Homo sapiens: one gene and its partners. The protein of the gene in region 7 purifies or fractionates together with the protein of the main gene of each other region. This does not show direct contact. Each region holds a gene or a part of one and is shown on either strand. Other genes may lie near its edges.

The links.
Region 1: the proteins of PHYHIPL (region 7) and ETFB purify together in Homo sapiens (co-immunoprecipitation; one large-scale study listed by IntAct). This does not show direct contact.
Region 2: the proteins of PHYHIPL (region 7) and MCCC1 purify together in Homo sapiens (co-immunoprecipitation; one large-scale study listed by IntAct). This does not show direct contact.
Region 3: the proteins of PHYHIPL (region 7) and putative glutamine amidotransferase-like class 1 domain-containing protein 3B, mitochondrial purify together in Homo sapiens (affinity purification with mass spectrometry, with the first as the bait; one large-scale study listed by BioGRID). This does not show direct contact.
Region 4: the proteins of PHYHIPL (region 7) and ALDH1L1 purify together in Homo sapiens (co-immunoprecipitation; one large-scale study listed by IntAct). This does not show direct contact.
Region 5: the proteins of PHYHIPL (region 7) and STARD7 purify together in Homo sapiens (affinity purification with mass spectrometry; one large-scale study listed by BioGRID and IntAct). This does not show direct contact.
Region 6: the proteins of PHYHIPL (region 7) and OPA3 purify together in Homo sapiens (affinity purification with mass spectrometry; one large-scale study listed by BioGRID and IntAct). This does not show direct contact.

The regions. Positions count from the first base shown.
Region 1 is NC_000019.10:51,344,669-51,347,028, reverse strand, and holds the end of ETFB (electron transfer flavoprotein subunit beta), read left to right. Parts: coding exon 1-129; intron 130-1,647; coding exon 1,648-1,818; 3' UTR 1,819-1,860; downstream 1,861-2,360. UniProt on the Homo sapiens protein: Heterodimeric electron transfer flavoprotein that accepts electrons from several mitochondrial dehydrogenases, including acyl-CoA dehydrogenases, glutaryl-CoA and sarcosine dehydrogenase.
Region 2 is NC_000003.12:183,014,718-183,017,107, reverse strand, and holds the end of MCCC1 (methylcrotonoyl-CoA carboxylase subunit alpha, mitochondrial isoform 1 precursor), read left to right. Parts: intron 1-1,541; coding exon 1,542-1,670; 3' UTR 1,671-1,890; downstream 1,891-2,390.
Region 3 is NC_000021.9:5,125,570-5,129,667, reverse strand, and holds the start of putative glutamine amidotransferase-like class 1 domain-containing protein 3B, mitochondrial, read left to right. Parts: upstream 1-1,298; 5' UTR 1,299-1,313; coding exon 1,314-1,454; intron 1,455-1,717; coding exon 1,718-1,770; intron 1,771-3,675; coding exon 3,676-3,789; intron 3,790-4,098.
Region 4 is NC_000003.12:126,174,087-126,177,586, forward strand, and holds part of ALDH1L1 (cytosolic 10-formyltetrahydrofolate dehydrogenase), read right to left. Parts: intron 1-3,500. UniProt on the Homo sapiens protein: Cytosolic 10-formyltetrahydrofolate dehydrogenase that catalyzes the NADP(+)-dependent conversion of 10-formyltetrahydrofolate to tetrahydrofolate and carbon dioxide.
Region 5 is NC_000002.12:96,184,828-96,188,327, forward strand, and holds the end of STARD7 (stAR-related lipid transfer protein 7, mitochondrial isoform 1 precursor), read right to left. Parts: intron 2,475-3,500; coding exon 2,390-2,474; intron 2,088-2,389; coding exon 1,903-2,087; 3' UTR 32-1,902; downstream 1-31. UniProt on the Homo sapiens protein: May play a protective role in mucosal tissues by preventing exaggerated allergic responses.
Region 6 is NC_000019.10:45,553,803-45,557,302, forward strand, and holds part of OPA3 (optic atrophy 3 protein), read right to left. Parts: intron 848-3,500; exon of another isoform or gene 708-847; intron 110-707; coding exon 1-109. UniProt on the Homo sapiens protein: May play some role in mitochondrial processes.
Region 7 is NC_000010.11:59,175,427-59,179,442, forward strand, and holds the start of PHYHIPL (phytanoyl-CoA hydroxylase-interacting protein-like), read left to right. Parts: upstream 1-1,216; 5' UTR 1,217-1,427; coding exon 1,428-1,533; intron 1,534-1,737; exon of another isoform or gene 1,738-2,164; coding exon of another isoform or gene 2,165-2,192; intron 2,193-4,016. UniProt on the Homo sapiens protein: May play a role in the development of the central system.

The DNA of each region.
Region 1 (2,360 bases), on a different chromosome or scaffold from region 7:
GGGGACAAGTTGAAAGTGGAGCGGGAGATCGATGGGGGCCTGGAGACCCTGCGCCTGAAGCTGCCAGCTGTGGTGACAGCTGACCTGAGGCTCAACGAGCCCCGCTACGCCACGCTGCCCAACATCATGGTGAGCCCCTGGCCAGCGGGCACTGAGGGCCTGGGGGTGGCAAGCACATTGCCAGCCCAGTGCCCCCCGGTGGTCGCACGTGGGGAGGGAAGGATCCAAAGGAGGTCTCGTGCACAGGAAGCCGTCACCTGGAGTTTGGCTGATAGAGAGAGTTTGCTGGGTCATCTCTGCCAATACTGAGAGTTCATGGGGGCTGCTTTGGCTAGCAGGGAGGGCTTGCTGGTATCTAGGCCAGTAGAAAGCCTTCGCTGGGCAGCAGAAGGTGTTCCCTTTGTCATTCCAGCCAGTGGAACAAGTTCACTGGGTCATCTAGGTTCATTAGGGAGGGTCCCCTTGGTAATTTTTGCCAATGTGAAGTTACCATGTAGATCATCTTAGTTAACTAGGAAGGGTGCATGGGGTCTCTTGGCTAACAGGTAGAGTTCACTAATCATCATGGCCAGTAGATGGGTTCGCTGGGTCATCTTGGCCAATATTAACAGTTTAGTGGGTCATCTCCGCCAATAGAGAATATTCATCTCAGCCAACAGGGAGGGTTCACTGGATCATCTCAACTAATGGGGAGGGTTCAATGAGTCATTTCAGCCATTACAGAGTGTTCACTACATCATCTCAGCCTATAGGGAGGGTTCAGCGCATCATCTCAGCCTATAGGGAGGGTTCAGCGCATCATCTCAACCTATAGGGAGGGTTCTGCGCATCATCTCAGTCTATAGGGAGGGTTCAGCACATCATCTCAGTCTATAGGGAGGGTTCAGCGCATCATCTCAACCTATAGGGAGGGTTCTGCGCATCATCTCAGCCTATAGGGAGGGTTCAGCGCATCATCTCAGTCTATAGGCAGGGTTCAGCGCATCATCTCAGCCTATAGGGAGGGTTCAGCGCATCATCTCAGCCTATAGGGAGGGTTCAGCGCATCATCTCAGCCTATAGGGAGGGTTCTGCGCATCATCTCAGTCTATAGGGAGGGTTCAGCGCATCATCTCAGCCTATAGGGAGGGTTCAGCGCATCATCTCAGCCTATAGGGAGGGTTCAGCGCATCATCTCAGCCTATAGGGAGGGTTCAGCGCATCATCTCAGCCTATAGGGAGGGTTCAGCGCATCATCTCAGCCTATAGGGAGGGTTCAGCGCATCATCTCAGTCTATAGGGAGGGTTCAGTGCATCATCTCAGCCTATTGGGAGCCTTCAGCATGCCATCTCAACCAAAAGTCCACTGAGTCATTACTACCAAAAGGATGGGTTTGCCACTCTGTTGCAGCCAGTGAAGGGCTTCCTGATTTGGTTACCTAAAGGAGGACTGCTGCAGTAGTTGGGCCTCCCAGGGCCTCCTAGCCAGCAGGAGTTGTCCACACCAGGTGTGGCCCTGTGAGAAGTTTCGCGTGTCCTGGCCAGTGGGTGGGTCCAGAGGGTTCAGCCCATGGGACTGGTCTGCAGGCCTGGCACCCATGGGAAGGAGGTGGCAGGAAGGGTGGCAGGAGTTCCACAGCCCTGTGAACAATGGCTTCCCATGTGCAGAAAGCCAAGAAGAAGAAGATCGAGGTGATCAAGCCTGGGGACCTGGGTGTGGACCTGACCTCCAAGCTCTCTGTGATCAGTGTGGAGGACCCGCCCCAGCGCACGGCCGGCGTCAAGGTGGAGACCACTGAGGACCTGGTGGCCAAGCTGAAGGAGATTGGGCGGATTTGAGCCCCTCCCAGAGATGGCAATAAAACTGACTCTCAACATCTATCTCTGTTAACTTATTTCCTAGAGACCCATTATTTGGTTCATTCAACATTTACTTGAGTCTTTTGTGTGCCAGGCCCTGTGGATCCAGTCCCTGCCCATGAGGAGCCTCTGTATTGATGCGGGGGACAATGAGGACAAAGGCAGCTGTAATTCGGGGTGAAGTATGCTAGACGTGGAGGCACACTGGGCCCTTGGGAACCCAACTGGGGGACCTGGCCTGGCCCAGCCGGTGGGGTCAGAGATTTCCCAGGGAGATGACTTCCAAGTTGAGTGTTGGAACACAAATATCAGTGAGGTGGGTGAGAAGAAGGGCTTTTATCCACGATGTTTGCAGGACACTCATTCTCTCTTGTGTCCCCAGTCTCAGCAGGGACACAGGAGAGAATGAGGCCAGAAGCTGTGGTTCTGGTGTGAGACAGACAAGCCACAGAGAATCAAAACTTAGCGTTGCAATGAACAGCCTGGGTCTACAGTCAGGTTAATTTTTTTTTAATTATGTT
Region 2 (2,390 bases), on a different chromosome or scaffold from region 7:
TAGAAAAGAGTTTTACTTTAACTTTGTGAAATTGCACCTGTCATTTCTGATTCTGAAATTAATGAAATTATCAATAGCTTGGAATCAGGCGATAATCCAACTGAATGTTAACTGTTGGTATTTTCTAAGATAATCCAACTGAATGTTAACTGTTGGTGTTTCTGGAATGTTAACTGTTGGTATTTTCTAATGTTAACTGTTGGTATTATCTTGGTTCTAAGGCCGAACCAAGGATGCCAGGCATCAGTTTCAAAGTGAAAACCGCAATCAAATTAAATTAGCTGTTTAGGTTTTTAGATGGTTCAAATGGTAGGTCAGTGATTCTTAGCCCTGGCTGAATATTGCAGACAGTCCTCAACTTACAATGGTTCAATTAAGGATTTTTCAGCTTGACAATGGTGCAAAACCATACACGTTGAATATGCTCCTCAGCTTACATTGGATTTATCTGGACCTGACCCCATCGTAAGTCAAGGAGCATGTGTACAGTCACCTGGGGAGATTTGAAAAAATTCTTCCCCAGACCCATTGAATTGCAATCTCCAGGAGTAGAGCCCAAGGATCAATACTTTTGAAAGGCTGGGCGCAGTGGCTCATGCCTGTAATCCCAGCACTTTGGGAGGCAGAGGCAGGCGGATCATTTGAGGTCAGGAGTTCACGACCAGCTTGGCCAACATGGTGAGACCCCATCTCTATTAAAAATACAAAAATTAGCCAGGCATGGTGGTGCATGCCTGTAATCCCAGCTACTCAGGAGGCTGAGGCAGGAGAATTGCTTGAACCTGGGAGGCAGAGGTTGCAGTGAGCCGAGATCTTGCCACTGCACTCCAGCCTGGGTGACAGAGCGAGACTCCGTCTCAATTTAAAAAAACAAACAACAAGGCCAGGCGCAGTGGCTCACGCTTGTAATCCCAGCACTTTGGGAGGCCGAGGTGGGTGGATCATGAGGTCAGGAGTTCAAGACCAGCCTGGCCAACATAGTGAAACCCCGTCTTTACTAAAAATACAAAAATTAGCCAGGTGTGGTGGCACACACCTGTAGTCCCAGTTACTTGGGAGGCTGAGGTGGGAGAACCGCTTGAACCCGGGAGGCAGAGGTTACAGTGAGCTGAGACCATGCCGTTGCACTCCAGCCTGGGTGACAGAGTGAGACTCCGTCTCAACAGCAACAACAACAAAAAACAAAAAAAAAAAAACAAAAGCAAGCAAACAAAAAACTGTTGAAAGCTTCCTAGGTGCAATTCTCATGTGAAGCTCAAGTTGAGAACTGCGAGCTACACCAGAGCTTCCCAGTCATATCGTTGAAAGGTTACTGCTGTGTCCCAGTGTTCATTCCTCTCAACTTGTTACTGTTCTCCCTGTGTGCTGTGATGTTAAAAATAAAAACAACAACAACAACAAAGCGTTGGAAAGCACCGAGAGATGACAAAACATCAAAGTTGGCTACAGTTTTCATTTTTGGTCTCCCTTTCTTGACTTGGTGTATACTCAGTCCTCATTAGTATTGCAGCTATCATTTGTCCTGTCATGTGTCTCTGCAGCATACCATAAAGTCTCCAAAGGATGGCACAGTAAAGAAAGTGTTCTACAGAGAAGGTGCTCAGGCCAACAGACACACTCCTTTAGTCGAGTTTGAGGAGGAAGAATCAGACAAAAGGGAATCGGAATAAACTCCAGCAAGGAAATGGCCAGTTAAGTAGTGTCTTCTCTCTCCACCAAAAAGAGGAAGTGCCTCCAGCTTTTCTGGGGGTCTCATAAAGAGCAGTTTTACTAAATGATTGTATGCTTATGCTGAACACCTTTCATATTGGAGAATCATGCATTTGGGTCACTAATTATCTCAAAATATTTCATACTAATAAAGTTGAATTATTTTTTATTGGAAGCCAATGTTTGTTTCTGCCTCAAATTTTTTACAAGGTAGTCTCTTTTAGGAAGGGGGGAAGAGAAAAGGACATTTAATTAAATGAATTACTTTCCAGTTGCTGTTATGATGAAAATGAGCAGTAATATGTTTCAGAGACAGGTGCCCTGGAGTTCAACAACTAAGGTTTTGTCTGGCCAAAAAGCAACTTGCTAGGTAGTTTAAAAGACATGGATATTAGTCGGGCGCGGTGGCTCACGCCTGTAATCCCAGCACTTTGGGAGGCCAAGGCGGGCAGATCACTTGAGTTCAGGAGTTCGAGACCAGTCTGGCCAATATAGTGAAACCCGTCTCCACAAAAAATAAGCTGGGTGTAGTGGTGAACATCTGTAGTCCCAGCAACTTGGGAGGCTGAGGCAGGAGAATCGCTTGAACCTGGGAGGCAGAGGTTGCAGTAAGTCGAGACCGCACCACTGCACTCTAGCCTGGGTGACAGAGCGAGACTCTATCTCAAAACAAATACATA
Region 3 (4,098 bases), on a different chromosome or scaffold from region 7:
CTAGTTCCCCACTATCTTGCAAGGATTGGCAGTAAAGTCCTAGTGATGGACAACGCGGCAGTGGGGAAAGTGACAGCCGTGGCTAGATCATCAGATGTGTCTGTAGAATCCGGTGTGTCCCTGTGAACATCCGCCAGCAGTAACCATTCACATTATTTCAAAAACCTGCATTATTAGGTTGAAAATGGGTAAATCGGGGAAAAAGCCAGCACTTATCCAGCTATTCCTCTGTGAACTAACCCATGCATAACAAACAGATTTTTTTAATGGAAGAATTCCAGCTAGGACCCGAGCAGCTGGGATCTTCACACTGACCGTCCATGCTGTGAACGTAAAAAACAAAAACAAAAAAACAAACCCAAACAGTGCCCGGGAATGGTGGCTCACGCCTGTAATCCCAGCACTTTGGGAGTCCGAGGCGGGCAGATCACCTGAGCTCGGGAGTTCAAGACCAGCCAGACCAACATGGAGAAACCCCGTCTCTACTAAAAATACAAAATTAGCCTGGCGTGGTGGCGCATGCCTGTAGTCCCAGCTACTTGGGAGGCTGAGGCAGAAGAGTCGCTTGAACCTGGGAGGCGGAGGTTGCGTTGAGCCGACTTCGCGCCATTGCACTCCAGCCCGGGCAACAAGAGGGAAACTCCGTCTCAAAAAAAAAAAAAAAAAAACCCAAACAGAATCGGCGGCTCACTTGCCCCCAGACTAACCCAGATCAAGCCCCTGGGTGGAACTGCAGTTTCCAGGATACAACATCCCGGGGTCAGTAAAACCCGGAGGGGTCGCTCCGTGGGAGCCGGAGCCGCGAGGAGACAGTCATGGAAGCGGAGGGGTAGTCCTGACCCCGCGTGGGTCCTGACGCCGAGATTAAGACGAGTGGCCATTTAGGAGGATGTGGACCCTGGACGCTCGTGGTGAGTTAAGGATGAGACGGAGGTAAGGTAAGAAGCGCCGGACTGAGCCGCCCCGAGGCAGCCTTGCTCTGCGGATGGCGGAAAGGGTGCGCCGCCTGTGGAGGCGTCCGATGGGGGCGGGGCTGGGGACCCCGGGAGTCACCAGCATCCCTCAGCCTCGAGCACGAGCCCTCAGCCACCACCGGAAGGAAGACAGGGTTCCCGGAACTCTATTCGGAGGCTCTGCGCAGGCGCGGCCCCCGCCCACCGGCGCACTCACTGGATAGGGCTGAGACGGGGGCGGGTCTTGGCTCCGCCCCGAAGGCTGCGCAGGCGCAGTCCCGACGAGCAACGCGTTTGTAGAGGGGTGGGTGCGCACGCTCTGTCCCTGCGTGACCTTCCGACCCCGCTGTCCTCACCGCAATGGCGGCTGTGAGGGCCCTGGTGGCCTCGAGGCTCGCTGCGGCATCTGCATTCACGTCCCTGTCCCCCGGCGGTCGGACGCCTTCCCAGCGCGCAGCCCTTCACCTCTCCGTGCCGCGCCCCGCGGCCAGGGTCGCGCTGGTGAGTGGACGGAGGGGGTGAGGTCAGCTCCCGCCTCCAGAGATCAGCCTTCGCTGTTCTCTGCCCAAGGTCGGCCCCTCTTCCTAGGTCCGCTCCCGCCGCCCCACGTCGGCTCCTTCACCCCAAGTCAGCTCCTGCGGCCCAGGTCGGCCCCATTTTCCCGGGTCAGCGCCCGCGGCCCAGGTCGGCCCCTTTCCCCCCAGTCAACTCCCGCCGCCCAGGTCGGCCCCTTTCCCCCGGGTCAGCTCCCGCTCCTCTCGCAGGTGCTGTCTGGATGCGGAGTCTACGATGGGACCGAGATCCACGAGGCCTCGGCGTAAGTCCTCAGGGGCAGCTGGTCCTCCACCCCGGGGGCCTCGAGAAGGCCTCTCCACCAGTGAAGTTTACTCTTTTTTGAACAGCTTAGAGAAAGCATGTATTTTATTTTATTTTTACTTTTTGTCTTTTGAGACAGCGCCCAGTCTGGAGTGCAATGGCGCGATCTTGGCTCACTGCGGCCTCCGCCTCCTGGGTTCAAGCGATTCTCCTGCCTCAGCCTTCCGAGTAGCTGGGACTACAAGCATGCACCACCACACCCAACTAATTTGTGTATTTTTGGTAGATACGGAGTTTCACCATGTTGGCCAGGCTGGTCTCAAACTCCTGACCTCAAGTGATCCTCCCGCTTTGGCCTCCCAAAGTGCTGGGATTACAGGCATGAGCCACTGCACCCGGCCGAGAGAGCTTGTATTTTAAATACCCTATTCTTGGCTAAAAAAAAGCAAAAACGACTTGCAAAACCCAGGGAGACGCTAAGAAAGAACAGTTTTTAAGTGTCGCTTATACTGTCACCTAGAGCCTAGAAATGACTTAGCATTTCACTTGAGTGTTTTTCAGGACACACACATTTTGAAAACACTGAGATCACACTCACCCGTGTTTTGCAAATGTTTCTGACGCATGGGAAGTAATTCCCATTCATTCAGTTCTCAACATCATTTTAACAGTTGCGTGGTATTTCTGGGTCCTAGACAGGTTACTGTTTACGTAACTGGTCAGCTGTTGCTGAGTGCTTGGTGGCCTGATTTCCTGTGCTACTGGAAATGACTGCAGGCCGAACCAGTAGGGCAGGAGGCCACCACGCGTGCCAGGTACCTGTAGTTCCCATGTGGTTCAGGGTGAACTGGAGAGGGGAGAGCTGGGTGGTGGCGAAAGGGGTGTCAGGCCATGGAGAGTGGCCTGAGGCTGGTGGCTTTGTGGGTGGCCCACCTTGGCTGGTTGGAGTTGGCACTAGGCAGAGTGAGCTGGGGGAAAGGGCCAGGATGTGTTTCATGATTTGGCCTTGGTGGGATAGAAAATAGCCCCAGAATAGCTTGAGCTCTCCCAGGCAGAACGGCAGGGTCTTGTGTCTGGGGTGTCTGGGTGGATTTCTTATGGGTAGCGGAACCCAAGTGCCAGGGCCAGGTGCTGACCTCTCCCTCTGGCAAGTCACTGCACTTCATGCCTCGGTTTCCTCCTCCACGTAAGGGGCAGTGAGGGCTTAGTGTGTGGGTGGGCTTAGCCACCTATCTCCTGTTGGCACTGGGAGTTGCGGATGCCAGCGTGAGCCCCCATAATGTCAGCTGTTGTCCCCAGGAGGAGCTTCTGTTGCCCTTGCCCTTGGGGAGATGGAGCTGCCTGGCCTGTGGTGTTGTCCTGGGGTCTCTTGTGTCTCTCCCACCATCTGTGATGGGAAAGTTGAGGGAGACTAGAAATTGAACTAAGTAGTGACCGAAAGCCCCGTCACACCGTCTGTGCACGTGGCACTCTGAGCACACTGCTGCTTCTCACTCTTGGTGCTTGCAGCAAGCAACTGGAGGAGGGCAGCCAGGCCCTGGGTGTAGGTAGAGCACTCAGCAGCCGGGGACCCGCACGCCTCCAGGCTGTGCCCTCAGTGGAGTCACCCGGCCCCCATACCCCAGTTTGCAAAGGGAGCTGTTGGGACCAGCTGATCTCCATAGCCCACTTCTGAGGGTTTGTCATAGTCGTAACCCACCAACCGACAGTGAATTGGAATGGGGGTGTGGGGGACGTTTGGCTTGGTATGGAACCAACTGTAACTTTTTGCAGAGCAAGTAAGATATTAATATACATTAGGAATTTGCTCCTGGTACTTAGCTAAAATCCTGTTTTTAAAAATGTGTTAACACAAATCTGAGTGGGGCACGTTTTGAAGAGTTGTCTCTGGTTTTCCCCCGTGCAGGATCCTGGTGCACCTGAGCCGTGGAGGGGCTGAAGTCCAGATCTTTGCTCCTGACGTCCCTCAGATGCACGTGATTGACCACACCAAGGGGCAGCCGTCCGAAGGCGAGAGCAGGTGTGGGGGTGGGATTGGAACTTGCTTCTTGTCTACCTCCCACGGTGCAGCCTTTTTTTGCTGGCTTAGCTTAAACCAAGTCTTGTGTGCAAATGAACGTCCTTCTGAGCAGCTGTGCTCGGGCTGTTCCGGAAGTAATGCTGCCAAGGCTCAGGAGTGCCTTCCTTCCAGTACTCACAGAAGGACTGAAAATGGCGACCGGATCGCTTCCCACTGAGTCAGGCTGCTCATACCTTGGTCTTAAGCAAAGGTGGTGGTTCTCAGCTTGGTCGCCCACCTTCTTCCCCTGTCTGGGCTCCAGATCTGTTT
Region 4 (3,500 bases), on a different chromosome or scaffold from region 7:
GGAGTGCAGTGGCACGATCTCGGCTCACTGCAACCTCCGCCTCCCGGGTTCAAGCAATTCCCCTGCCTCAGCCGCCCGAGTAGCTAGGATTACAGGCATGCACCACCACGTCCGGCTAATTTTGTATTTTTAGTAGAGCCTCCATGTTGGTCAGGCTGGTCTCGCACTCCTGACCTCAGGTGATCTGCCCACCTCGGCCTCCCAAAGTGCTGGTATTACAGGCGTAAGCCACCGTGCCTGGCCAGTACCCACTAACTGATAGATCCAGCAGGCTGGAAATCAGTAAGGACATAGTTGAACAGCACCATCAATTAAGTGTATCTAATTGGCATTTAGAGAATACTTCACCCAACAACAACAGAATACACATTCTTCTCAAGTTCACATGGAATATTCATCAAGACAGACCACATTCTGTGCCATAAAACATACAACAACAAATATCAATGACTTCTATGATGGAGATTACTGAGATCACAACAGAATCACTAGAAATCAATAACAGAAAGATATCTGAAAAACATTAAAAAAATGGAAACTAAATGACACACTTCTAAACAACATGTAAACAAATCAAAGAATAACTCTCAAGAAAAAATTTAAAATATTTCAAACTAAATTAAAATGAAAATATAACATCAAAATTTATGGGATGCTGCTAAAGTAGTGTTTAGAGGGAAATTTAGAGCACTGAATGCATATATTATTAAAGAAGAAAGAGCTAAAAGCAAGTTTCCAAATTAGGAAACTAGAAAAAGAAGAGCAAATTAAATCCAAAATAAACAGAAGAAAGGAAATAATAAAAATTACAGCAGAACTTGTGAAATTGAAAACATGCTGTCAATAGAGAAAATCAACAAAACCTAAAGCTGGTTCCTTGAAAAGATGAATAAAACTGAGACACCTCTAGCCAGGTTAACTAAGAAGAAAAAGAGAGAAGACTCAAATTACTAATATCAAAAATGAAAGAAGGGCCATCAATACTGATCCTACGGTCATTAAAAGGATAATAAAATACTAGTATGAACAACTCTATATCAACAAATTTGGTAAGTTAAATGAAATGAAACAATCCCTTGAAAGTACAACGTTCCAAAACTCACACAAAGAGAAATAGATAATCTGAATAGGCCTATACTGATTAAAGAACTGGAGCCAGTAGCCTTCCAAAATAGAAAGCACTAGGGTTAATGAATATGACTAAACATTTAAGAAAGAAATTATGCCAATTCTCTATGATCTCTTTCAAAAAATAGAAGTAGAGGAAATTCTCTAATTTTCTTGGGTCAGAATTACCCTGGTACCAAAACCAGAAACATTACAAGAAAGGAAACTAACAGATCAATATTTCTCATAAACATAGATGTTAAAATCCTCAAAAAAATCAGCAATTGAATCCAACAATGTTTAAAAAGAATTATACATAACCACCACATGGGATTTATTCTAGGTTAAACATTTGAAAATCAATTAATGTAATCCATCGCATGAATAGGCTAAGGAAGAATTATATGATCACATCAATAGATCCAGAAAATGCATTTGACAAGAATCTAACATTCATTTATGATAAGAGCTTTCAGCAAGCTAGTAATAAATGGGAACTTAACTTGATAAAGAAGATCTATGAAAAACCTACAGCTAACATCATACTTAATGGAGAGAAACTAGAAGCTTTTCCCCTAAGATCAGAAATAAGGCAAGGATGTTCCCTTTCACCCTTCCTAGTCAACATTATACTGGAAGTGCTGGCTAATGTAATTAGAAAAGAAAAGAAAATGAAAAGTCTACAGATTGGGAAGGAAGAAATAAACTGTTCTTGTTCTCAAAAAACATAATTGGCTATGTGGAAAATGCCAACAAAGCAACAGAAAACTGGAAATAATAAGTTATTCTGCCAAAGTTGCTGGATGTAAAGTCATGGTTAATATACAAAAATTGATTACTTTCTTATATACTAGCAATAAACAATTGAAATTTGAGATTAAAAACACAAAACCATTTACATTAGCACCAAAAAGTGAATTATTTATACATAAACCTAAAATAGGTCAAAATCTATGTGAGAATAACCATAACTGATGAAAACATAAAAATATGTATAAATAAATGAAGAGATAGTACATGTTCATGGGTAGGGAAACTCTATACTGTCCAGATGTCAGTTCTTTCCGACTTTATCTATAGATTCAATGCAATCCCAATCAAAACCCCAGCAGTTATTTGTGGATATCAACAAACTGATTCTCAAGTTTATTTGGAGAGACAAAAGACCTGGGATAGTCAACACAATATTGAAGGAGAACGAAGTTAGAGGACCGATACTGCCTGTCCCCAAGACTTTACTATAAAGCTACAGTAATCAAGACAGTACGGTATTGGCAAAAGAATAGTCAGATAGATCAATTGAACAGAATAGAGAGCCCAGAAGTAAACTCACATCAATACAGTCAACTGAACTTTGACAAAGAGACAAAGGCAAGACAATGGAGAAAATCTGCATTGCACAAAAATCACACAAATATCTGTACACTGATGTTTACAGCATCTTTATTTGTAACTGCCAAAACTTGGATTTGACTTTTTAGATACAACAACAACAGCACAATTCATGGAGGAAAAAAAATGGTACATTAGACCTTATTAAAATTTAAAACTTCTGCTCTGCAAAAGACACTGTTAAGAGAATGAAAAGACAAGCCATGGTTGGGGAGAGAAGACATATCTGGTAAAGCACTGTTATCCAAAATATACAAAGAACTATTAAAACTCAACAGTAAAACAAACAACCCAATTTTAAAATGGGCCAAGTAAATTAACCGACATTCACAAAAGAAGATATACAGATGGCAGAGAAGCATTTAAAAAGATGCTCAACACTGTAAGTCATTACAGATTGCAAATTAAAATATAACAATGAGATACTACTATATGCGTATTAGAAGAGTTAAATTAAGAGCACTGACAACAAATGCTGATGAGGCTGTGGAGCAACAGGAACTCTTATTTATTACTGGTAGAAATGAAAAATTATGCCACCACTATGGAAAAAGGTTTGGTAGTTTTTTATAACACGAAACATACTTTTACCATGTGATCCATCAATCGCTCTTGATATTTACTCAAAGGAGAAGAAAACTAATGTCCACACAAAAACCTGCACACAAATGTTGATAGCAGCTTTATTCACTGCTAAAACTTGGAAGCAACCAAGATATCCTGTAGTATGTGAATGGAGAAATAAACTGTGGTACCTCCACATCCATACAACAGAATATTAGTCAATGATAAAAAGAAATGGGTTACCAAGTCACAGAAAGACATGGAGGATGCTTAAATGCATTTTGCTAAGCGAAAGAAGCCAGTCTGGAAAGGCTATATACCATATGATTCATACATACTATATGACATTCTGGAAAAGGCAAAACTACAAAGGCAGTAACCAGTGGTTGCCAGGGATAGGTAGGGGGGTTGGGGGGTGGATGGGTAGAGCACAGGAG
Region 5 (3,500 bases), on a different chromosome or scaffold from region 7:
TTTCCACCACCATTTGTCCAAAGACAAACACTTTTTTTTGTACCAATCTTTATGTATTTATTCACACATTTGATAAAAATGTCACAGTTAGGAGTGAAATCATTACAATGACATGAGTAACTGTACAGACAGACCCCAAGTGCAGAATCAAATTGCCCTAAGTCAGAACATGGAGCAACCGCAACTCCTTCGCACTTGTGCATGTGTGTGCGCTCGCAGACGCACACACACACACACATATTCTCTCTCTCTCTTATGCACACATCCATCCACATCCCAACAATTGCAGGTGCTAAGTTTGGACATAACCCAGGGACTCTTCCCTGACTTCTGTCAGGTCCTGGAAAGAAGAAGTAATAAATGAAAAGCAGCTGGGACTGCTCGATGCATCTCTCCTCTTCCAACAATGACGCGGAGAAGGCAAGACATACACTGGGGCAGCTACTTCCTTGGCACAAAAATGAACAGGCAACAAGAAGGTCAAGGAAGTGTTTAAGTTAGTCTCAGGTTTAAACCACTTTTCAACACCACAAAACAGTAGCAAGCAGGAAAACAAAAACAAAAACAAAAACAAAAACTCTGGCCCTCAAGACTCCAGAAAAAAGGGAAGGAGGAGGATTTAAAACTTGATCCCTATTATTCTAACAAATTGCAGCATGACCATAAGCAAAACCAGCTCGGTCAAACTGACAGCATCAGATTGTGACCTTATCTGAACAGTGTAGTTCACTTTTATTTTGGCTCTGAAGAGAGGAAGAAAAACTTTTTAGAGGAACTTAATGGTAACATAAACCAAATCTCCACTGTATTAGTATTTGAGACAAGATTACATCTATGCATTCACACAGCTTGTCTGTAGATCTGAGAGCTCCAAGGGAGTGGCCCAGCCCCCATTCCTCTGACTTTAGCCTTCTGAAAAGAACAAGTCAAACCTGAAATATGAAAAATAATACCTGAATCAAAATGGTGTTTTCTATACAATCGGACTAGGGTAGAATCCTGCTCAATTCCTCAACTCCTATTTGACACAAAAGTTAAAAAATTTTTAAACTAAATTTAAATGTGATGTTTTGAGCATCAAAAAGCTACTATCTAAAAGGATTAGTCTCCCAGTGTTCTTGGTAAATGGGGAAGGTTAGGAAGGAGGCAATGATCCAATGAATATAGAAGAACTGGCCGATTCACAGGAAACTTGCTTTGGATAAGGTGAGTCAATGGGTGATATTGTGCAGGCAGGGAGGGAAATTTCTTTGTACAAATTCATGTCCCTGGCCAGGCATGGCCCAGGAGTTCAAGACCAGCCTGGGAAACAGAGTGAAACTCCATCTCTACTTAAAAAAAAAAAAAATTAATAATAACTTCATGTCTCTAGAGATAAAAGCAAGGTGCGGACAAGGCACTTAACATAGCCAAGTATCGTTCACACCCATTCACATCATGATTGTTACCAAGAGCACTCCCAGTAGCCCCTCATTTGAGAGACTCAACTGGCCAACTATACTTTCCAGGTGGACCTGGAGAACTGAAGGAAATCCAAAGCGCTGCACAATCGATGGTGGGATTTGGAATGTCAGCAGAGGAAACTACTCAGAGAAGCAAATGGAGGTCATCCCCTTCTGGCCTGAGGTGAGAGGTTTGTTCCAGATTAGCTCAGTGAGATACCGAATTTCAAAACAGTTGGCCTGAGAATATGACAACACTCCCACAAATGTAGCCTTCTTCTGTTTTGATAAGAGCAATAAGGGCTCTGAATGAAATGGGACATCAGTTATTGAATTATCTTGCACTGGAAGTTACAGCAGATGCCTTCTAATACATGTGGCATGTCCCCCTTCTACAGCAGAGTGATAACGGACTGAGACAGGGCTAGAAGCACCTTGTCCCTTCTTATCCCAAAGCCTGTCAAGCATACTCAATCCGAGCAGGGCCACAGCTGCCCTCGTTCTTTCGCTCAGAGGACTGGCTGGTGGCCTTGGCTTCACTACTCATTTCCAGAGGCTTAGCTGAGATGTAGTCCTTTACTTTAATCTCCATATTCTTGGCTTTCAGAGTGGCCATGTGCAGCTTCTCCAGGAAATCTGGCATGCCTGTCAGGAGACGAGAATCAGGTTAAGCTGACATACAAACCAACAGTAGGCTCAAAATGAGAAGACCCTATTTCTTTGATGGTAGGGAACTAGTTCTTCCTTATAAAGATCACAACCTGACTAGCCTGTGAATAAGAGCTGCCTCCCGGAATGTGTTCCCAAAGCATGGGTTGTGAAAACTCTGTCTCAGAAAAAAAAAAAAAAGAAGAACCAGAAGAGACGTTTTATTTCCCCATTAGGAAATAGAGAAAAACAAAATGCTCAACCCAGGTTCCAGGCCCTGTATACTTGCCCTTACTTACCACTGGAAACCATCCAACTAACACAGTAGCGAGGAAACACCGTTTGGGGATTGTCACTGTATGTTAGTAAGTAGTCAAAGCCATTCTGGAAAAGAAAAACAGCAAAAATGAAGATCCCTGAATCACCAACCACAACCTCCATATCCAGTACCATAGAATAACTATGATCTGATTCTGGAGCAGGGAGTGTCATTTCTTTTTTCACCCTGTGCAGAAAAGAGTTAACACTGAAGGCCTGAGAGACTACTATCTATAGAAAGGTCTCCTTGCAATGTTGACCCTTGGCCAACTTCGCTCCCAGTCAACAGTTAGCTGATATGGGTGGCTCCCTGTGCATAGACTATGCAAACAACGTGGTTTATGCTGAACACAGGCTTTGCTTTGCAGGGTTTGGAATTCTGGTATGTGCTAAGCAGACGGTACTAAGTGACCAGCTCCCAATAAAAATTTTGGGTGTTAGGCCAGGCATGGTGGCTCATGCCTACAATCCCAGCACTTTGGGAGGCCGAGGCAGGCGGATCACCTGAGGTCAAGAGTTCAAGACAAGCCTGGCCAACATGGTGAAACCCCATCTCTACCAAAAATACAAAAATTAACCGGCCATACTGGCACACACCTGTAGTCCCAGCTACTCGGGAGGCTGAGGCACAAGAATTGCTTGAACCCGGGAGGCAGAGGTTGCAGTGAGCCAAGATCTAGCCACTGCATTCCAGCCTGGGAAACAGAGCGAGACTCCGTCTCAAAAAATAAATAAATAAATAAATAAATTGGGTGTTGGCTGGGCGTGGTGGCTCATGCCTTATAATCCCAGCACTTTGGGAGCCCAAGGCAGGCAGATTACTTGAGGACCAGAGTTCGAGACCAGCCTGGCCAACATGGTGAAATCCCATCTCTACTGAAAGTTAAAAAATTAGCTGGGCGTGGTGGTACACGCCTGTAATCCCAGTTACTTGGGAGTCTGAGGCAGGAGAATCGTTTGAACCGGGAGGCAGAGGTTGCAGTGAGCACAGATTGAGCCACTGTACTCCAGCCTGGGTGACAGACCAAGACTTTTTTTTTTTTTTTTTTTTTTTTTTGAGACAGAGTTTCGTTCTTGTTGCCCAGGATGGAG
Region 6 (3,500 bases), on a different chromosome or scaffold from region 7:
AGCAGCTCTGCGCCCAGCTCAGCTGCCGCCTCCTCGTTCAGCGGCTTGATGACCGTGCCCCGGAAGCCCATGATGCGCATCTTGGTCCGCATCTCCACCCAGTGATACACTGCGGGGGAAGAGAGGGGTCAGGCTGCGCTCTGGGAGCCCCCTGCAAGCCCCACCCCTCTCACCCAGGGAATGCAGTCACCTAGCCTGGGTAACCCAGGGGTCTTTTAAAAGACCAGATGATTCTAGCGAGCAGCCAGGAATAAGAAACACTGCCCCAGAAGGGAGGTCCTCGGACTTGAGGGGCCGCGCCCCAAGAGGGACACCAGGAGCTTCCACAGCGCCAAGTTCATGGACGGTGTAAAGGTCCAGTTGCCAGATGCTTAGTTCCCTGTGTTCCTCCCTTAAGCCACTGCCATCCTGGCTGTCCTGCCCTGGCACTGTCGCCCCACCCACTTCCCAGGAGAAAGACCAACCTCCTTTCTTGCCTTATTTTCCCAAAATGCAAAGTTGGGGCTACAGATGGGGGAGAGGGGGGCTCCTGGCTCCAAAGGGCAGCTTAAGGTGGCAGTCGATGCTAAGTGCCTCTGAACACTTAGATACACTTGTAATAATCAATCATTTTTGCAAGTCTGATGGCTCCAATCCTAGAATTTCATCAGCCCTGAAGGTGCAGCTAAGAGCTGCGAGCTCTTCACAGTGAGGTTTTGGGCACATACCTTGGTGGGAGCTCAAGAGGTGAGTGGTGCTGCTGGAACAAAAACTCCTTCCTTGCCTAGCTGCTTCTTTATGAAGGAAGGTTCTCAGCACTTGAGTCTTTAAAACCAATGCAGAATTGATGCTGCATCCTGACTCACTCCTGCAACAATTAATATTCATCCAAGGGCACATGAAACCACAGAGGGAACCCTTGTGTGGTGCCTTTGCAGACTCATTTGCAACATCTCCTTTTACTTTTAAGGTTTAGTAATTATTCATGAAAATGTATAAAAGATGAACTTTTTGTTGTTGTTGTTTTAGAGACGGAGTCTCACTCTGTTGCCAGGCTGGAGTGCAGTGGCACAGTCTTGGCTCACTGCAACCTCCTCCTCCCAGGTTCAAGCAATTCCCCTGCCTCAGTCTCCTGAGTAGCTGGGACTACAGGCACGCGCCACCATGCCCGTCTAATTTTTCGTATTTTTAGTAGAGAAGGGGTTTCACCACGTTGGCCAGGCTGGTCTCGATCATCTGACCTCGTGATCCACCTGCGTTGGCCTCTCAAACTGCTGGGATTACAGCCATGAGCCACCATGTCCATCCAAAAGATGAACATTTTAAAGTAACTGCGCACTAATAATTTCAAAATTAACTCAATCCAGAAGAAAATAACTTAGCATTTAGAACCTTATGGTCACAGGAAATTAACATGTAAATTTCTGTATGTATTTTGGTTGCCGACATATAAATCACTAGATGGAATTCTGTGGGTATGTGGACTGTAAATACAAAAGTACATGAACAAAAAGAAACCATGTGAAATTTCTGACTGAAAAAGAAGAGCTTGTTTTTATTTGTATTATTTTCGAGACGGGGTCTTGCTTTGTCGCCCCGGCTGGAGTGTAGTGGCGCAATCATGGCTCACTGCAGCCTCGACCTTCCAGGCTCAAATGATCCTCCCACCTCAGTCCCTTGAGTAACTGGGACTACAGGTATGCCTGGCTAATATTTTTTTTTTTTTTGAGATGGAGTCACACTCTGTCGCCCAGGCTGGAGTGCAGTGGCGCGATCTCGGCTCACTGCAAGCTCCGCCACCCGGGTTCACACCATTGTCCTGCCTCAGCCTCCTGAGTAGCTGGGACTACAGGCGCCCGCTACCACGCCCAGCTAATTTTTTTATATTTTTAGTAGAGATGGGGTTTCACCGTGTTAGCCAGGATGGTCTCGATCTCCTGACCTCGTGATCCACCCACCTCGGCCTCCCAAAGTGTTGGGATTACAGGCGTGAGCCACCGTGCCTAGTCATTTTTGTATTTTTTTTAAAATAGAGATGGGGTTTATCAGTATGTTGCCTAGGCTGGTCTTGAACTCCTGGGCTCAAGTGATCTGGCTGCCTCGGCCTCCCAAAGTGCTGGGATTGCAATCGTGAGCCACTATGCCTGGCCTATATATATATATCTTTAAACCAGACATTGGTAGGCATCAAATCATTATTGTATGCGAACTGCAATAAATATGAAGGGAAGGATGCACCAGCTGTTTGAACATGTCAGTATCATAACACACCAGAACCAGAAATTCCATCCTTCACAACTACTTAAGGTTAATGAAGAAAAGTTTTACTTGTCAACTTGAAAATGCACTAGAGGGCACACAATTTATTTTTTCTTTTTCTGAGACAGGATCTCGTTCTGTTGCCCAGGCTGGAGTGCTGTGGAACAATCTCAGCTCACTGCAACCTCTGCCTCCCAGGCTCGAGTCATCTTCCCACCTCAGCCTCCTGAGTAGCTAGGACAACAGGTGCATGCCACCATGCCTGGCTAATTTTATTTTTTTTGGGTAGAGATGGGGTCTTGCCATATTCCATCTTATTTATTTATTTATTTAACAGATGGGCTCTCACTCTGTGGTCCAGGATGGAAGGCAGCGGCTCCATCACAGTTCACTGCAACCTCGAACACCTAGACTCAAGCAATTCTCCTGCCTCAGCCTCTGGAGCCGCTAGAACTATAGATGCCCCACCATGCCTGGCTGTTTTTAAATTGTTTTTTGGTAGAGACTGGGTCTTGCTATGTTGCCAAAGCAGGTCTTGAACTCCTGGGCTCAAGCAATCATCCTGCCTCAGCCTCCCAAAGTACTGGGACGACAGGAGACAGCCACTGAGCCCAGCCACTACACATTTTTCATCTTCAAAGGGGTGGGGTGGCAGGAAGGCTTGGGGAGCTCTGCTGGAGCTGGAGGGAAGACCTGAGGTGCAAGCTTAGGGCCCGAGAAGTCACTGTCACTGTCACTGTCAGCTGCTGCAGTTACTGTTACAGCTGTGACTTAGGCCCTGGGCTTGTGGGTTCCTGGGGTCCAGGCTGTGGAGACCCCTCCCACACTGAGGTCTTAGGGTCAGGCTGATCTGGGGTCCCCCCGGGGCTCCGCCACCTGCTGCCTGAGCAATGACAGCCTGCCCCAAGGCCCCTCTGTAACACAGGAAGGACAGCATCATCCTGACAATGACACTCGCCAGACCTGGTGGTGGCCCAGAGCTGGGCCCGTAACTGTCACTGCCTCCTTCATGTCAGGGACACCTAGCACAGTGGCCAGAGAGTGGTGAGGGGTGAGGGTTCCAGATCCTCTAGCCTTCCTGGGTGAGGTTCCCAGCGTGGAAATGCAAGTGTCTCAGTGCAGACCAAGCATGGGGATCTGGGCCAGCAGGTGGGTCTAGGTGTGCCAATGGGAGTGGGCACATACCCAGGCCACAGGAAATCAAATCAAGAGGGTGTGTGTGTGTGTGCACGCGTGTGTGCACGCAGGCATGGGCTTTCAGG
Region 7 (4,016 bases):
GCAGCATACAGACATCTATGTGTAAACTGTTACTTGTTGGTTAACATTTATGTTTGAAATGGAAAATCAATAAAAGGGAACTTATATTAATTTATAAGCACATTAAGAAAAGAGGGGACACTATTTTTGATCCCAAGATAGCAACAAAACTAAAAACTTTTCCAAAGAAGCAAACGGGAACAGAGGTCAATAGGCTGTGACCTCTATTTTATGTTTAAAACGTTTGCACATCCACTAAGTGCACTGCAGAATCTTAAATGCAATTAAAATCAATGGGCATACAAGTTATAGAGTAGCTTGAGGAAGCACAAGTCAATCTTCATTAGCTATTGTAGCAAAGATTCCTTCCAAATCCATGGGAGCAGGTGCTGTTTATACTCCCTTCATTGACGCCCAGAACAATGGCATAGGGTGAGCATTGAATACTTATTTGCTACGCGCATGAATGAATGAAGCTACGCTGCGAAGGCAGACTGCGTGGCTGCTGGTCCCGTGGCTGCTGGCCCCGCAGCATGTCTGCCGCCTTTTCAGCAGGCTTGCTGCATCTCCTCATTCCCTCACCTTTCTGGCAGTAAGGAGTTCCCACGTTTGCCCCGCTTCAGTGTCGTGGACTGGCAAAATGCTGTCTCTAAACCCCTCCACGCCTCAGGTAATCCGCTCATTTCTCACACAGACGCAGCTGTTTCCGAGGAATGTCCGGCCGAGCCCGCAGGGTGCGGGCAGCGAGTATCCTGGGACCTTCAGGGGAGGAGGTGGCTCCCACACCCCAATACCGTACAGAGAGTCCGAAGAGTCCGGGCCCTTATTTTTCCAATTCTTGGTAAACAACAAACATGCTCGCCCTCGCCTCCCCGTGCAGACGCCTCAGGGCCAACTCGGGCTTCGCCAGGCACCGAGAGCAGACAGAAGACGCCAAATGGCTATCACCAGGAGAGAGGGCGAGGCAGCCGCGCGGCGTATAGCGCTCGCCCTTCCCGCGCGCTCGGTCGCCCGACGCCTCACGCGCGAGGTTGCCTTGGCAGTGGCTGGAGGGCAGGTGGGGGCGCGTGCGCGCAGAAGGGCGGGGGAGGGACCACCGCGCGCCAGCAGGTGGGCGCGTTCTCCCGCGCGCGTGCGCGCGTCGAAGCCCTATACATCACGTTCCCCGAGAGCAGCGTCCCCTCCCCGCCGGGAGCGCGCGCCTCCCATCCTCGCGCCGGGTCCTGCTCGGTCTCTCAGAGCCGCACACTCCGCGGAGCTCCTGCCACAGCCGTCGCCTTCGCGGCGGCTCTCCAGCCCCGCGCCTCAGCCTCGGCGCCGCATCACCGCGTCCCAGGCCTCCTTCCCTCCCTCTGCCACTCCCCCTCCCTTTCCCGCTCTTCTTGCCCACCCGGCCGGCAGAGAGAGCCTGGATACGAAGCAGGCGGGCTTCAGAGTGGGTTGGAAAAATGGAGGTGCCGCGCCTGGATCATGCCCTCAACAGCCCCACCAGCCCCTGTGAGGAGGTGATCAAAAACCTCAGCCTGGAGGCCATTCAGCTGTGCGACCGGGACGGTAAGAGCGGCCGGGACCGCGAGGAAAGGGACAGAGTTCGCGCCGAGGCGCCGGGGCCACTCTGGCTCCGCCGACGCCGCTCGCCAGGGCGGCAGGGTCTTTTGTTGTCCCCTCTGTGCAAATAAATGCAGATGTGGGTTACCCTCCGCCCACCGCCCTCCCCTCACCCCAGAAACAAAAGGACCCCGGGGCTCGCGCCTTGGCGCGGAAAGTAGCCGTCCACAACCGTGGCGCCCTTCGCCGCCTTCGCCCGCCTGGCCCGGACGAGGGCGACGTTCCCGCTCGCGGCTCCTGCCCCGACGAGGCGTTTCCGATCTTTGCCGCAGTCCGGATTTCCTGGGTCTCTGGGCACTGAAGGGGAAATGCCCTCGGGATGTTTCTAGCAACCCCCTTCCCCCAACACACACACACTAGTTGGCATTCTCTTCCAGAAACTTATCATTTTCTTTTTTAAACCTCCCATCCTCAGACTCCCCAAATTAACAAGTCTTTTTAGCCTCTTGGATTGGGATTAGGATGACAGTTTTTCAGTGAGGGCGCAGAAAAACAGTGCATTTCAGCACCAAGGACAGACACAATCTTCATGGTTCCTGGGCTCTGAGTCAGACTGTCGAAAATATTGGCCTAATATATGTGCTGTGATTCAGACTTTGTGGCGAGTACGTACCATTGCGTGTTGATATTATATCGTTTATTCTGTTGTTGAAGTTGGCAGGCTCCTGTGGAAGGAAATTGATTGAATACAGGTCTGAGCGTTGAAGACATAAGCTAGTGCTGTGTGCGGTGTGGTTAGTTACAGTGCTTCTGGGTTAGCTGGACTAGTTAGAGTCTGCTACTTTAGTAATGTGGTACAAAACTTCATTTGTAAAGAAATCATTTGATTAGTAATTGGTTGGCCGAATAATTGTAAAATTCTACATCTGACAAAGGAAACACAGTTCACATGTTGTTAAGAGGGCCCCAAATACTTTTGACTGTAAATGAAATTAATGTTTAACTGTATATAGAGGTAATGATTGTAAAACATGTCTTTAACCAAAGTTATGTACAGATACTAATACGCTCACAGTAAGGTCATAAAATTTATCAGCCTAATCCAAATAGGGAGCAGAGGTCTTGTTTCCAAAGTCATTTAAATGGTAATCACTTGGTTACGCATTGCTATTCAGCACGTTTATATCAAGCAAGCACCGAATTTGTTTATTACTAAATTTTATATTTATTAATATAAATTTATATTTAATAATTTTGAAACCAGAATTCAAACTTTTTGAAACCAAAACCACTTTAATTTCTGATACAGGTGTAGTATATGAATAAATAAATACGTTTGCAAAGACAGCTTGTATTTCCTTTATTCTTAGACTGTTTTAGTCACCATGGTAGTAAGTGCACATATTTATGGTATCTAAAAACATTTATCATTTTGGTATTCCATATGTAAGCTTGCATGATTATAGACTGTAAAGATTATTTTTAATAACGCATAGGAAGTCATTTGGATTTTAGTTTAGACTTTTATGAAATGACTTTTTGTAATGTAACCATTGCAAGTTGTAAATATTTTTATTTTCTTAGGGTTGAGAGAAACACAAGACTAATAAAAGTAGACTTCATTTTTATTTATTGCAATGATAAAGCAAAAGCTCATTCTTGTACTCAATGGAATTAGGCATTCATTGTTGCTCTTCAGAACCCAGTAATCTCAATACTTAAAACCGCATTTACCACGTGTTTCAAAGATATTAGGGAAAATTTAAACTTTTTAATGAAGTTCACAGAGTTAAGAGAGTGCAAAAAATAATGCTGTATTTACTGTGATCCCCTAGAGGAGTAGCTATTTTATTCTGGTATTATTTTTTAGTTGTTTCTTTTCAAATTAGGAATCCCACAAAATGAACAAATTATGTAACATTTAATTTTGGGGAGGGTGCTGGCACTAAGTAACATCTATGAAAATTACTATTTGCAGACTTCCAAGTAATTTACATAGACTAATTAAATAGGGTTTTATTTTATAAAATAGTATACACCAACAAATACAAAGAGCTAACTCTTCTACTAGAAGATGTATAAAATTTGGAAATACTTTGTTTAGAGATGTTGTTAAATGCTTAACTTATTTTGTTATCCTATCTTACATGTCAATTCCAAAAATATTAACTTGGTTGGCTTCAAAGGGATAATTTAGGGGGAATAATGTCGTTTGTTTTTAATAGAACAGCATATGAAATGTTGCATTAAATTTGTCAAACAGACCTTACTTAGCATCATTTTGTATTGAGAGATTTTCAGCTAGTTGCTTTTTACTCCCTTTGCTTCCCTCCTTTCACTTTCTTTCCACTCAAGTCTCGTTATTTTACTTCTGTAACTATGTAACATAGAAAAGGATGTGGCAGAATATGGGACAGAAGATCTATTTTGTGTTTAAGTACCTAATAAGAGCTATATTTCATAATTTATGATAGAATACATTTATTTTG